2 separate regions of the Homo sapiens genome follow, and region 1 is linked to region 2. A link means that fine-mapping ties the variant in region 2 to the expression of a gene that starts in the linked region. Tissue or cell type: whole blood. Region 2 holds a variant in brackets; the other region holds the start of a gene. All regions are shown on one strand. Distances are from middle to middle.

Region 1 (8,106 bases), 130 kb before region 2:
TGGTGTAAAGGAGAAGGCTACTTTAGATAGAAAGAACAGTATAATTCAAAGCAGGAGGCCATCTGAAGTAAGAGCTGCATAAAAGCTTTCTGACATTTCCTTCTTTGCCCCCCAAAAGGGGCATGTACCTTTTTGTCTTCAAATTTTATTTGAGAATTAGCTATCCATGAATCACAAATTTCCTGTTATCATGATTACTCACAGCCACCACATGTTAGAGCAACTCACAGAGCTTAATACACTAGAGTAATCACAAGGCAGGCTTTTAGAATAATCTCAGGTAGAGACCTTTTACTAAGGAGTGTGGGGAGTCTGGCATCTCTAGGGTCCTGGGCGCACAAAGACAGCTACTCCTCTTGGGTGCTAAAGATATGCACCAGTCATTTTGCTGCCAGACCATTCAAGGGTCATTCAACTTCAGCTAAGTATTTCTTTCATACACAGCTTCAGGACAGACAAAGCCATCTAAAGCAGTCTGAAGCACTGAATTCCTATTTTAAACAGGGAATGGTAAATGGTCTTGCCAGGGATGCCCCTTTTCCACTGTTTTCCTGGAGAGCTCTTCTCCACCTGCCTTAGGACTCACAGTTCAAGCATCCCTTCCTCTGTGAAGCCTTTCCTTTTTTTTTTTTTTTTGAGACGGAGTCTTGCTCTGTTACCCAGGCTAGAGTGCACTGGCAGGATCTGAGCTCACTGCAACCTCAGCCTCCCGGGTTCAGGCGAGTCTCCTGCCTCAGCCTCCCGAGTAGCTGGGATTACAGACATGCACCACCACGCCCGGCTAATTTTTGTATTTTTAGTAGAGATGAGGTTTCACCATCTTGACCAGGCTGGTTTCGAACTCCTGACCTAGTGATCCATCCGCCTTGGCCTCCCAAAGTGCTGGGATTACAGGGGTGAGCCACCATGCCTGGCCTGTGAAGCCTTTCCTAATTCCTCTGAACTGACTTAGGTCGCCTCCCCTGTGCTTCCATTAACAACGTACACATACTTCTACAGCAGCACTTACCACACCGTGTTTTAATTGTTTACATGTCTGACTAGCCATAAGCTCTTTGATGGCAAGGGTAATGTTTTACCCATCACTGATTGCACACTTCATAGGCACTCAATAAACACTTGTTAAATGCATTAATAATGGATGATATTGGAAGTCTTAAAGAATGGCAACTATACTTTCTGGATTCCAGACCAAAATTACAGTAAGAATTAACAATGAAGGCTAAACTCTCATTATATGTTTCTACTACATATATCATTCCTGGCCAGAAAAAGAGGCCAAAGATTGGAGAAGATTGCTCTAACAGTGCTGGTCACTGCCAAGCTACCAGCCAAGAATAAGAGCACTTGCAGTATTAAGAATGAACAGAGTCATATCTAAGGCAATTTCTACATTTCAGGCTTCTTTGCCTGCCTCAGGAGAATAGAAACAATGATGAATAAGAGACCTTGGAAGGGTCACAATGTCCACCATCACAAAACCTTGTAGCAAACTGTGATTCAACACAACTTCTGCTGAAATATACAGGAAAGCTCTTCACCTTCTTACCAAATCTACTCAAAGTTCTGCTAAGGAACACAGGGCTGAACTAAGTCCTCCCAGAACCCTGCCATTTGTACAGTGGCATTCTAAATCATTCCTCATGGGATTTACTCATCACTGAAGAGATACAGGCAAAGCAATACAATGCTGTGGTCTCAAATGCCTCTCCCTGTAACAACCTTGTACCTCACAACCCTATTGGGTTTACAGGCTACTAATAAGACACAAAATCTGATCTGATCCTGTGGGAGTAAAGCCCTGGATTCCCTCAAGGGATTAAATAAATGTCGACTACTTCTGGATTCCCAAAGTTGTGGGGTTTATTTAGTTGAAAAAGCATAAGGACCAAAACACAGACAAGTGAAGCGATGGAAAGGAACTTTGCCTCTGAGGATCATCTGCAGCTGAGTGGGATGTGGCTCTTGGCATATAGTGAATGAGATAAGCAATGCTCAAGGGCCATCCAGAACTGTTTTGCTGACAGATATCTGGCTTCTTGCATGTTATTCCTAAGAAGCCAAAAGGCTCCAGTTAGCCTCTTGAAGAGACAAAAAAAATTTGTTTTCACCGTAGGCAAGAGCAATTACCAAGCCAGTAACTCTGACTAGGTGTTTTAGCATATTTCTTTCTGCCACTACAGTCTTACATAACCCCAGCTGTTACGTTAACACCTGCAGCTACATTAGTCACAGCTTAGCCCTTCACAAGGTATGTGTTCCTACTGTCCTCTCCCAAGAAGGGAAACTGAGTCATAGCATATCAACTGGCTTCCCAAGCACATGCTTAGTGTATAGTGAGGCCACAATTGAACCCAGGTGGTCTTCCTACTATTCACCTTTTCTCATGGATGAATCTCAGCATGCCCACCCCTGCTGCTCTTTTTCCTTCAACCTAAAACCAAATCATTGCCTGCAGAGATCATATGTGATCCTTTAGAGTCAACAAGGGCTTCTAGTTATCTTTCCCAAGAAACAGGAAGGTTAACGAGGAACATGGAGCAGGAGAGGGTGGGTTTGGAAAGAGGTGGATCCCAACAGGACTCACCTTGGAGCTGAGGTCCTCTCGTCGGTTTCCTGCCTTACTCCTGCGCAGTTTGATGGATGGAGATCTCAACAGATTCTTGATCCGGCTGGTAATGGTTGACCCTTCCACAGCCATTATGACGAGAAACCCTTTGGGACAGTCCCCGGCCCAGTCCTGGGTCTTGTCTCAACAGCGGCACTGTCTTCCCACTCCAGAGGGCTTCCCAGTATGCCCTCTCACTGACCTGAGATGGCAGAAGCCACCTTAGTATCACAGTGTCTTACCTTCTGCCTAGCGAAGTCTGCAGCTTTTACCTCTGGGTATTGCTCTCACCATTTCCCTCATCCCCACCTTCTAGCCCTGCACAGTTTCTTACAACGTCGGAAGGAAAGGCTCACGAAAAAGGGGGGGAAAATCCTAAGCCACGAAGAAATGCCAGGCCCACGCCCGCCAGAGGCGTTTAACTGGCGAGATGGATGGGATGGGCCCCAGTTGGTCTCGTGGACGATCTGGTTCCCGTTAATGCCCAACTGTTCCCATGGCAACTGTAGTGTCCAAGGGAGGAGGCCGCCGAGACCACCAGGGATTTCCGCAGGCCTGGACACCTGCGCTAGCGCCGGCGGGGACGCGGCGGGGCTCGCCGTAGCCCACAACTCGTTCTGCCACGGGAGCCTCCCTCCCCCACTCCCTATCCTCCAGAGCTCGCTCTCCGCCCTCCACAGCGGCTCTGGACCTTTATCTTTCACCCGCCTCTGAGGCCCCTGCTACTCGTCAGCGCCCCCGTTCGGGCCCAGCCTCACCAGCCTCGGCGAGCTAAGGCCACCCCGCTCACAGCGCCCTCGGGCATCGCGTTCGGCAATTTCAGCTCCGCCGCGGTAGCCGCAGCGGTAGAGGCAGCAGCAGGAGCTATGGTGGCACGATCGGCTCAAAACGCGAACTACCGCCTGGGCCAAGCCGCGGGCTGGGTGGGCGGAGCCGACGCGAGGGGCGCGGCCTGTAGTCAGGAGAGCGCTTCCAGAGTGGACGAGCAAGGTTTACGGGGGCGGAGCCAATGAAAGGGCCCAGGAAGCAGACGGCTTGGGACTAGGGAACCACGGAATCCGCACAATTGCGGGTACCGCTTTTAGAGGAAGGTCAACAGAACATGGCTTCAGAATTGAGAGAACCAAGCCTTTTATGGTATTATCAGGCCTGGTCCCCCATGGAACTGCACTTCCCAGAGCCCCAAGACGATAACCACGCCTCCAGGGTGTTAAGGTTGTCATCTGATAGGCCCGAGGGACCGTAGCTGAAACTCCTAGCTCAGAATTACAAGACTGAGCTACAGCCTAAAAGCTCTGCTCCCAGCGACCACAAGTGTTGAGATTTAAAGCGACTGAAGTAGTTTCTGCTCGCAGCCAGTCCGGCACGTAGACTCAACGTGGAAAGGATTATTCTGAGTAATGCAATTTAATAGCTAAGAACAGTATTTTTGCACTGGGCAACCTGGTCATCATGAAAGGGGAAAGGGTGGCCTTGAACAGAGCTTTGGGCGTGCGGGGGAAAGAGAAGTGAATATGCTATGTTATAATACTTTAGGTTTCATGGCTTCTTTAGCCTCCAACATCCCATTGTGCTTCCTCACCTAAAGCTGACCAGGACTTTGTTGCTCCAGATCTTTTCCTCATTCCATTTACTTATGAATCCTTTTATCTAGGGCTGTTCCTTGCTGAGGTCACTGTCGAGCTTGCTGATACTAGATCGAGGGGTAGTTTTCTAACTCATGTCGGGGGAGGCAGAGGGAATACACGGAAATGTTACATGAAATAGTATTTCCTGAGTATTCTCCACTTGACTACTACCACAAGAAATCACCTTATGAAAAAGCCTAAGCCAGAGACTTGGGTCCCAAGGGAATAGTACACTGGTGTGTCCGTCTCACCCTATCCAGATCTTTTGAATCCCTGTGGAGATGACATGTGTCTGCAAGAGGGAAGAACCTCTAACAAATTATTATACCTTATGAAAAAGCCTAAGCCAAAGACAAGGGACCCAAGGGAGTACTACACTGGTGTGTCTGTCTCACCCTATCCAGATCTTTTGAAACCCTGTGGAGATGACATGTGATAACAAGAGGGAAGAACCCCTAAACTCATTGCTTGTGTACAACGGTGAGCCTTTAGAGCCAAGTGGCAAAGCACATATTTTCTTGTGTATACTGTAGCCACGTACTGAAAATTAGATTTGTAAAGCTCACAAGTTGACATGGAGATGATGGATGTCACCTCCTGGAGACCAACTGGCAATAGCACGTGGCCTTCTTCCCTTCAACCATGCACTGCAAATATTATGAAACAGAAAATACGATTTTCAAATTTATTTCCCAAGTCTGGAAGAAGAAGGCAAGAACCATTAGCTACAATATGCAAGAGGTAGTTGGTTCCTTCAACCTCTTGGTAGTTACATGATGGGACCTCTCCATGGGATTGAAAGCTAATAAATGGTGCCACCTGGTGTCTTTACTTGCATGCTGCAGACCACGGCAGATGCCATCTCCACCCATGAAACTAGAGTAAAAATGTGCCCACAAGAGCCGTCCCTAATCCTCTCCAGATCATTCTGGTGTCCGCTAACGGTTTTCTCACCTGATCACTCATGGCCAGATAAATGGTTTACAAAGTATCACTGGTCATTTCTTTCATGAAAAACAACTGAAAGCATTTTAATGAGGATTTCTTAAGTCTGGAATCTGGGTACTTCCAGTCTTAGGCCAAAGCCACGCTTTTTTTTTTTTTTTTTTTTTTTTTTTAAACAGAGTCTTGCTCTGTCCCCAGACTGGACTGCAGTGGCGATCTCAGCTCACTGCAACCTCCGACTCCTGGTTTCAAGCCATTCTCTTGCCTCAGCCTCCCGAGTAGCTGGGATTACAGGCACGCGCCACCACACCCAGTTAATTTTTGTATTTTTAGTAAAGATGGGGTTTCACCATGTTGGCCAGGAGGTCTCGATCTCCTGACCTCGTGATCCGCCTGCCTTGGCCTCCCAAAGTGCCAGGATTACAGGCGTGAGCCACCATGCCCGGCCCACACATTTTTAATTCTTCACAATTCAGTCCAACTTTTATTGTCTAGGTACTACACTGCCTTTGAGATACCAATATAGGAATAAGCTATATAGGCTATTCCCATTCTTCATTAATTCCTCAGAAAATAACAGTCCCAGGTCTAATGTGAACAGAAGCATTATTCACTTTTCTCCACTCAGATTTACAGTCATGCACTGTATACATTTCAATGACCACATGATCCCATTAAATTATAATATCATATTTTTACCATACCTTTCCTATGTGTAGACACACAAACACCACGTGTTACAACTGCCTATGATATTCAGTGCAGTTAACATGCTGTACAGAGTTGTAGCCTAGGAGCAACACAGCCTAGGTGTGTGGTTAAGCAACACCATCTAGGTTTGTTTAAGTACAGTACACTCTATGATGTTTGCAGAACAAAACCACCCAAGGTGCATTTCTCAGAACGTATCCCCATCATTAAGTGACGCATGACTCTACTTGCCATCCCAATCCTCCAAAATGCAGTTAACTCTTCATAAGTATTTCATCATCCATACACTATTTAACACTTTATTCTACTTTTATATGTCCTAAACATCTATACATAGTGTTTGCCAGCTTCTGAAATTCTAGATGTCTGGGGAATAGACGTTATATAGTTGTCTGTTTAGCACTATACTCATTAGATCAAATTTTAAAATTCACCCTAGGCATAACATGCAAATAAGGTATAAGTTCCTGGGAAACAGTCTAAACATTTGCTCATCAATTCAAATATTTATTGAGCACCTTTACATGCAAAGGCACTGTGCAACAGCTGAGATCAATGATTGCAGTTGGAAACACAATGGATCTCAAAACCATGCTTCCAAGACTGCTTTCCTACTTAATATCTTTTCTACCAGCAGAGTTTACAACAATAGAAATTAGTAGAGTTTAGATTTGTCTCAAAATTTCCAACTCATCCCATAGTCTTCCCATCCTCTTAATGCACCACCATCACTATTCAACACTTATGTGTAGAACAGCTCAGTCATGTCTAACATTAGCTACACCTCAAACAAAAAGTTGTACTTATCAAATTATTTCCCTCTATTCCAAAAAATGCGTTATAACTGATTTTTTTCCTCCAACTGGCAGTGAGTCTGAATATCTCAGCTTTAATTTTCCCTGCACCTAGATATTTGTGTCCATGTAAAATTTCATTAGTAGGCCGGGCGCAGTGGCTCACGCCTGTAATCCCAGCACTTTGGGAGGCCGAGGCGGGCGGATCACAAGGTCAGGAGATTGAGACCATCCTGGCTAACATGGTGAAACCCTGTCTCTACAAAAAAATACAAAAAAATTAGCCGGGCACAGTGTCGGGCGCCTGTAGTCCCAGCTACTCCGGAGGCTGAGGCAGGACAATGGCGTAAACCCGGGAGGCAGAGCTTGCAGTGAGCCAAGACGGCACCACTGCACTCCAGCCTGGGCGACAGAGTGAGACTCTGCCTCAAAAAAAATAAAAATAAAAATTTCATTAGTGATAATACAGTGACATGAAGTACTGATGCCTTTACAGCACCTTCTTCAAAACCAACAGTTTTGTGCAAGAAATGTATTCTGATTCTTGGTTATCAGTCATTCTCTATAAAAGTACCTGGAAAATGTGCTGTGTATGGTTTGTTGTTGTTTAATTCTGGAGTGAGGGACAAGGGCTGTCACTATTTTCTAGACCCGTTTTTAAAGTGCATCACCCTATTTGATTTCAAATATCTCAACCAGTATAGTTAGAAAAAAAATTATCTAAACCACTAAACCAAAAATAACATATGGATTGTCTGCCTTTCTTGTGTGTTCAAAACATTTTCAAACTTGTTATAGAAGAGCCTAGCATCAGGTATTTCATCTGTAATTCCACGAAAAAACTATTGTATGTACTATAAAATCACACAAAGTGAACAATTTGTATGAAGCTTATATAACTGGACTTGATCTGTTAGTGACCTTAATAGATAGGAGTAGTTGGATGTCTAAAGGATTCCTTTAAACGTTTTTGTTAACTGTCAAACTCTTTAACATATCTTCCCTTAAGAACACCTACTGTCCTTTACCACTAAAAGACTGTGTTTGTGTACCTTTACTCCCCAAGGTTAACAGGTGAACTGCCTTGCTCATACTGACACCAGAATGATTTTAGAATGACTTCTAAAACAAATACTTGCCATCAGGTTGCACACAATTTTGAAGCCTCCATGTAAAACATGCTACAAGGATTAGAACATCGAAAACCTCCCCCAAATGGCATATCAGAAACTTAGAGAAAAGGAAAGGATTCCTATGATAAAACCACTTCAGTGGCACCTCTCTCAAATATGTCTTAGGGAATTAGAATTCTCCACTCCAAGTTGGCACAAACCTCCCAACACCAAGTTCTGCTTTAATTGTTTTAACTGCTTTATTTCAGGTTTATATATTCTACCTTTCAATCACCAAACTTCTGTTC
Region 2 (8,106 bases):
CACTTTTGGAGGCTAAGAGAAGCAGATCACTTGAGGTCAGGAGTTTGAGACCAGCCTGGCCAACATGGTGAAACCCTATCTCTACTAAAAATACAAAAGTTGGCCAGGCATGGTGGTGCACGCCTGTAATTCCATTTACTCGGGAGGCTGAGACAGATGAATTGCTTGAACCAGGGAGGTGGAGGTTACAGTGAGCCAAGATCACACCACTGCACTCCAGCCTGGGTGATGGAATGAGACTGTCTCAAAAAAAAATTAAAATTAAGAAAAACTATAGAAGCATAGTGGTAGGAGGAACTGACACTGAGGTATCAAGTAAGGCTTAGTGTTAAAGAATGTCTAGAAGTTGACAAAGCACACAAGGGAAGGAAGGGCATTCTAAGGAGAAGGAACAGCTTATGCAAAGGCACATGACAAAAAAGAACAGAGTATTCATTAATTCCTCAAGTCAAACATTTATTGAGCACTTACCATGTACATATCCTGGAACGCAAAGACATGATTCCTACCCTCAAAAGCTTACCATCAATTATCAGACAACTATTATCAGATAACCAATACTCAATGATGACAACAAAGAATAAAGAAAGCTACTGGCTCTCTGCCTGGGGTGTAATGGAAGTATAAACAAAAAGCAACTAAATTATACTGAGGGATCATAGAATAATTCTCATAGGAAGTAAAGAATTACTTTGGTTACTGGTTAACCAAAGTGGTGTGGAAGGCTGGGCGCGGTGGCTCACGCCTGTAATCCCAGCACTTTGGGAGACCAAGACAGGCAGATCACCTGAGGTCAGGAGTTCGACACCAGCCTGGCCAACATGGCGAAACCCCGTCTCTACTAAAAATAAAAAAAATTAGCCAGGTGTGGTGGCGGGTGCTTGTAATTCCAGCTACTCAGGAGGCTGAGGCAGGAGAATCACTTGAACCTGGGAGGCGGAGGTTGCAGTGAGCTGAAATTGCACCACTGAGCTCCAGCCTGGGTGACAGAGAGAGACTCCAGCTCAATAAACAAACAAACAAACAAACAAACAAGATGGTGTGGAAGATGACAATAAGACTAGAACCCAGTAAGACTTTTCTCCATATCCAACTACATATCCTCCTCTCCCTTCCTTCTACATCAAGTCAATCATCAAATCTTCCTGTTGATTCTACATCACTGACCTTCCTGACCATGATACGCTGTCAAAAACACCATGTATCTGTTCTTCCTAGAACTTACACAGGTCTATTTTTTATATTTATTTGTATAATTGTCTTCTCTCTCCTGTTCATCCCATCCCTACAAATTATAGACTATATGTCCTTTTTTTTTTTTTTTGAGACAGTCTCACTCTGTTGTCCAGGCTGGAGTGCAGTGGCATGATCTCAGCTCACTTGCAACCTCTGCCACCCAGGTTCAAGCGATTCTCTGCCTCAGCCTCCCGAATAGCTGGGATTACAGGTTCCTGCCACCATGACCAGCTAATTTTTGTATTTTCAGTAGAGACGAAGTTTCACCATCTTGGCCAGGCTGGTCTTGAACTCCTGACCTCATGATCCACCCGCCTCAGCCTCCCAAAGTGCTAGGATTACAGGTGTGAGCCACTATGCCCAGCCTGTATGTCCTTTTTAACCTCTACATTGTACCCTAAGATTCTATCAACAGTACCTTGCACATAGAAGCACTCAATTTAAAACATTTTGCACCCACACACTTCATTCCACCTTCATGCATCACCCTAGTCCAAACCACCAGCAGCTCTTACTCAGACTACTGCAACAGACTTTTCTTTTTTCTCTCTCTCCAGGCACTCATTCTGGCTCTCTCCTGTAATCCATTCTCCACACAGTATCAAGGGACCCTTTCTAAACATAAATCAGTTCATGCCATTTCTGCCATTTTTAACCTTCCATTAGCTTCCCATTTCATTTAGAATAAATCTAACATCCTTAGTATGGCCTACAGATCTCCGCGTTCACATCATTCTCCCCATAACACATCATACTCCAGGCACAATGACCTTCTATTTCTCAAATGCTCCAAACATTTTCTCAGAGAAGGGCTCTTACACTGCTTTTTCTATTTGCCTGAAACGCTTTGCTTCCAGTCCCCACAAACCTTCACCTGGGTAACACCTATACATCCTACCAGTTTGTCTAAATATCACTTCCTTAGCAATGCTATCCCTACTCCCTAATTTAAATTCTCTCTCAAAGTACCCTGTTCTATTCCCTCATAGTACTTACCAAAATGTATATTTACTTATGATTATTCAATGTCTCCTCCATGAATAACAGCTAACATATACACAGCATTTGCCATATATTAACTCATTTAATCCTAATAACCAGTGAAGCAGGCTGATGATGAAACTAAAAGGTTAAGTTAAAGATTAAACAGAGAGGTTAAGTAATTTGTTCAAGGTCACAAAGCAGTAAGGAGTCAAAACTTGAACCCAGACACTCTGGCTCCAAAGTTCACACTTTTAATGACTATGCTATAGAGTAAGCTTTGAGAGAACTAAATAACCATGTCTATTTTGTGCATCACTGCATATTCAGGTCAGGTGCCAGATACGAAGTAAGCATTCACATATTTGCAGAATGAATTTGTTAGTAAATAATTAAGAGGCAAATAATTATATTTAGAAGCATTAGGGAGAGGAATAAGAATAAAATGGGTTAGAGGCAATGATGATAGTGTCGATTCTGGACAAACTGAATTAAAGGCAGCTCAGGAACATCTTAATATCTGCTTAATTAGAATACCACAGGGAATCCATGGAGGGGCTGAAAGAGGTCCAGGAACAACCTAGAACAGTATGCAAAATTTAGTATGCGATGTACTTTTCTGGGGAGAAAGATATACCTTAATCAGATTATTAGGGGAGTATGTAATCCCCCAAAATATTTAGGAACCATTGATCTAAGTGGAAATGTCCAGTAGACACTGGAGATAAAAAAGGTGAACCTTAGCTAAATACAAAGATTTGGGAAGTAACTAAAGCCAGGGGTTTGAAAAAGCCCAAAAATGTAGAGTAAAATATTTCAGAGGGTTATGGTCAGAACAGACATTTAGATGACAGGTGGTGAAAAAAGAATCTAGGAAAAAGGAAGAGAAGAGTAGTCACAGAAATAAGAGAAAAATAGATGAGAGTAGAATTACAGAAGCTAAGGAGGGAGAATGTCTTAAAGAACAAGGAAGTGGCAGAGCCTCATAACCAAGGAGTCAAGGATTTAACAACAGAAAAATGTATTCCAGGAACTACACAGTTTCATAAGTGGAGTAGTACAACAGAATATTCACATATGCAAGGAGAGGAAGTAAATGAATATCAGGGTCTAGTGCTCAGGACAGAGAATCATACTGAAGAAATAGATTGGAAAATCAATGTATTTCAAACTATAAATGTAAGTGCAATTATTCAGGTAGCACATAGAGAAGTGGGGCTCTGATCTAGAATCTACGAATGAGCTTGCAGGCAGATGTCCTGTGAAACTCCTAAAATTGTAAGCACAAGTTTGTGTAAGGTACATACAAGCAATTTTTGACAAAGGGTCCATAAATTTTATCAATTTTCCGAGGGGTGTATGACCCAACAAAAGATAAAGAACCATAGAAGCTGAATGAGAAAAGAGAGCCAAGCTAGAAAATAGCCCTGGAGAACATCAACATATAAAAGAAACCTGAAGCTTATCCAATGGAAATAACAAATCTGAAGAAGTAAGTTGTACATGGAAGACAGGCAGTCTTCATGGATTTCAGACATTTTTTACTTGACATCATATATGCTCTATAAATATTTCTCTAACTTTTCTGACTGTGACTCAGTAAAAACTACATTGCTAACCAGTGTACACATACAGGTTACAGAAATAATTTTCCAGTAACCTGGAATGACACCAATACAGGTCCCCATAAACTTACAGTGGGGTGATATCTCAA[TTAAC/C]CCATCACAATTGAAAATATCATTAAGTCAAAAAACGCATTTTTTCCAGGGGGCGGGGGGTGACAGAGTCTCGTTCTGTTGCCCAGGCTGGAGTACAGCGGCATGATCTTGGCTCACTGCAACCTCCACCTCCCAGGTTCAAGCAATTCTCCCTCCAGTGGCTCACACCTGTAATCCCAGAACTTTGGGAGGCCAAGGTGGGTGGATCACTTGAGGCCAGGAGTTCGAGACCAACCTGGCCAACATGGCAGAACTTCCCCCTCCAACTAAAAATACACGCCTGTTACCCCAGCTACTGGGGAGGCTGAGGCATGAGAATCACTTGAACTCGGGAGGCAGAGATTGCAGTGAGCCGAGATCATGCCATTGCACTCCAGCCTGGGCAACAGAGCAAGACTCCATCTCCAAAAAAAGAAAAATAGAAAAAAATTAATAAATATTAATAAAATAAAATGGAATATCTCCTCACAGCTAAATTTCTTCACAAAAATAAAAACTACAAATGAGGATGCAACGAAAGTAAGCTTCTGAATATCACCTCTATTAGCCAAGCAAGGAAAGTCACTTAGCAATAGTTAGTTAACTAAATCACATCTGACTATAGCTGCCAAAGAATTGTATATCCAGAGAAAATAAACTTTTTCAGTTTATTTTCTGAAGCAGTGATTGAGCTTAGCAGAGGGAAATTTTTACTGCAATTTTTAAAATTCAGGGTGAGCTGAAATTTTTCTGAATGAGACCACCCACACCCACTATTTAATTGAACACTGAATGGCTCTGGAAATTAGCTTTTCTGACAGACTTCACCATGTGTCTCAATGAATTCAACCTAGTCAAATAGCAAAACAGTGATTATATGCAGAACTTATGCTGCCACAAAGTCATTTCAATAAAAATTAATATTGTTTGAACCACAAGTATTGTCAAAGTACATACACTTCCTGTGTTGTCCAGAATTAAAACAGTATGAGAGATGTCCATTCCCATACAAAGTTGTAGTGAATATATCTTCCAAGTTCAGCATTTTATACTTGCACCAGAACTTGGTGCAAGTGAAAAGGGAATTTCTCCATTTCAAAATCTATCTACTTGTGCAATTGGGGAGGTTCCATCTAGCCTTAAATTTAAAGTGATTAATCTTCAACTAATGTTTTAAAAATCAAAGAATCCAACAATTTTTTTTTTCAGACAGAGTCTCACTCTGTAGCCCAGGCTGGAGTGCAGTGGCACAATCTCAGCTCACTGCAACCTCCACCTCCCAGGTTCAAGAGATTCTCCTTCCTCAGTCTCCCGAGTAACTGGGATTACAGGCACATGCCACGCCCAGCTAATTTTTGTATTTTTAGTAGAGACAGGGTTTCACCACATGGGCCAGGCTGGTCTGGAGCTCCGCCCAAGTGATCTGCCGGTCTCAGCCTCCCAAAGTGCTGGGATTACAGGCGTGAGCCACCGCACTCGGCCCTAACAGAATTCTTAAAATGCCTTCCAAGAGACTAACAGGCTCAATTAGAAACACATGCTTGTGAATTGATATGAGTAATTGGCAGGACCTGTCTGTGAAAAATGACATTTTCTAAGATTAAATACATAAAACCTCATACAGATAAATAATAACAGATGAACATTTGCAACTGATTTTAAGGCTAAGGAACATTTACTTTGAACTTCAATTAAACAAATTGTTATCCTCCCCAAAAAAAGAATTCCATTCTTCTCATCTGTAGACATGTATTACCAAAATGAAAAAGTACTAAACAATTACATTTTTTATTTTCATCAATACAAAATTTGTGGAAATTTGTTTTTTCTTTTAATATATGTACCTACATAATACCCTATTTTGCCTCTTGGCCCACAGTGCCTAAAATACTTACTATGTGGCCCTCTACAGAAAAAGTTTGCAAACACCTGGGTTAACGTATTATCTCCAACTGATTAGCTATACAACACTGGACATCAGTTAACTTTTCTAGGTCTTTCTTTCCACATTTATAAAATAAGGAGGACTGAAGACAACCTCTATGGTATATACTCCAACTTTAGTATTCCACAATTAATAATACACATTTCATATTCACTTTGAATGGTAATATTTTTTCTTTTCCTCTTTTTTTTGAGACAGAGTCCACCCAGGCTGGCTGGAGGGCAGTGGTACAGTCTCGGCTCACTGCAACCTCCTCCTCCCGGGTTTCAAGTGATTCTCATGTCTCAGCATTCCAAGTAGCTGGGATTACAGGTGCGTGATCACCATGCCTGGCTAATTTTTAGTATTTTTAGTAGAGACAGGGTTTCACCATGTTGACCAAGCTGGTCTCAAACTCCTGGACTCAAGTGATCCTCCAACCTCGGCCTCCCTAAGTGCTGGGATTACAGATGTGAGCCACCACACCCGGCCTTCTTTTTTTTTTTTTTTTTTTTTTTTGGTACAGATGGAGTCTTGCTACGTTGCCCAGGCTGGTCTCAAACTACTGACCTCAAGCAATCCTCCCACCTCAGCCTCCCAAAGTTCTGGGATTACATGTATGATCCATCCACTCACTGTACCTGGCCTGTATAGTAATATTTTGAATGAAATGTTAGGCCAGTTTTATATAAAGTATGAAGAAATGTCTTATTATGTAAAATATGAAGATGTACTTTATTAAATTCACAGAGGATGAAAAAATGGTACTGGGACAACTGGATACACATACAAAAGAATTATGTTGGTTCAGCAGAACATTGACTCAAAAAAATAAAAGAATTATGTTGAACCATTTACCTCACACCACATGCAAAAATGAACACAAACCAGATCAAAGATCTAAAAGTAAGTGCTGAAACTATAAAACTTTTATGGAAAAAAAATGAGAAAGAGTCACAACCTTGGATTTAGCAATGATTTCTTAAGTATGGCAAAAAGGCTGGGCATGATGGCTCATGCCTGTAATCCCAACACTTTGGGAGGCTGAGGCGGGCGGAGGCGACTTAGTGAGACTTCATCTCAGGGAAAAAAAAAAAAAAAAGTATGACACAAAAAGCACAGGTAATACACGATAAAAAAAGATCCTGGACTTCATCAAATTAAAACCTTTTGTATATTATTCACTATTAAGACAGTGAAAAGGCAATGTACAGAAAAGGAAAAAATATTTGCAAACCATATATCTGATAATGGACTAATATTTAGAATATAAAAAGAACTCCTACAACTCAACAACAAAAAAATCACTTTAAAAATGGGAGCCAGGGCCAGGCGCAGTGGCTCACCCCTGTAATCCCAGCACTTTGGGAGGTCGAGGCAGGCAGATCACAAGGTCAGGAAATCGAGACCATCCTGGCTAACACAGTGAAACCCCATCTCTACTAAAAATACAAAAAATTAGCCAGGCATGGTGGCACGTGCCTATAGTCCCAGCTACTCAGGAGGCTGAGACAGGAGAATCACATGAACCCGGGAGGCGGAGGTTGCAGTGAGCCAAGGTCACGCCACTGCACTACAGCCTGGGCCACAGCGTGAGACTCCGTCTCAAAAAATAAAAATAAAAAATAAAATAAAATAAAATAAATTAAAAAAAAAAAAAAGAGCCAGGCACCATGGCTCACACCTGTAATCCCAGCACTTTGAGAGGCCAAGGCAGGAAGATGGCTTGAGCTCAATTCAAGACCAACCCCAGCAACACAGCAAGACCCTGTTTCTAAAAAAAAAATAAAAAATAATTAGCTAAGTGTGGTGACACATGCCTATAATTGGAAGGCTGAGGTAAGAGATCACTTGAGCCTGGGAGGATGAGGCTACAGTGAGCCCTGACCATGCCACTGCACTGCAGCCTGGGCAACAGAGCAAAGACCCAGTCTCAAAAGAAAAAAAAAAAAAAAAGGCCAGGCATGGTGGCTCACGCCTGTAATCCCAGCACTTTGGGAGGCTGAGGCAAGCAGATCACCTGAGGTTAGAAGTTCGAGACCAGCCTGGCCAACACGGTGAAACCCCATCTCTACTAAAAATACAAAAAAATGGCCGGGTACAGTGGCTCATGCCTGTAATCCCAGCACTTTGGGAGGCTAAGGCAGGGGGAATCACAAGGTCAAGAGATCAAGACCATCCTGGTAAAACCCCGTCAATACTAAAAATACAAAAATTAGCTGGGTGAGGTGGCATGCGCCTGTAGCCCCAGCTACTTGGGAGGCTGAG

The links. PIP is the estimated chance that this variant, and not a neighbour inherited with it, causes the effect.
Region 1: MAPKBP1 starts here. The variant in region 2 is fine-mapped to the expression of MAPKBP1 in whole blood (TOPMed, PIP above 0.99).

The regions. Positions count from the first base shown.
Region 1 is chr15:41,769,871-41,777,976 of GRCh38, reverse strand. MAPKBP1 (mitogen-activated protein kinase binding protein 1) reads right to left here and starts at 3,493. Exons shown (of 31, transcript NM_014994.3): 1 at 3,367-3,493; 2 at 2,588-2,810. The coding sequence starts at 2,701. It overlaps MGA (MAX dimerization protein MGA), which reads right to left. Exons shown (of 24, transcript NM_001400225.1): 24 at 8,037-8,106. RefSeq lists an enhancer at 3,997-4,046.
Region 2 is chr15:41,642,598-41,650,703 of GRCh38, reverse strand. It overlaps a transcript of MGA not described here. Among named protein-coding and RNA genes, the nearest start is that of MGA, 14 kb to the left of the region's middle. The variant TTAAC/C (reference allele first, on the strand shown) is at 3,932.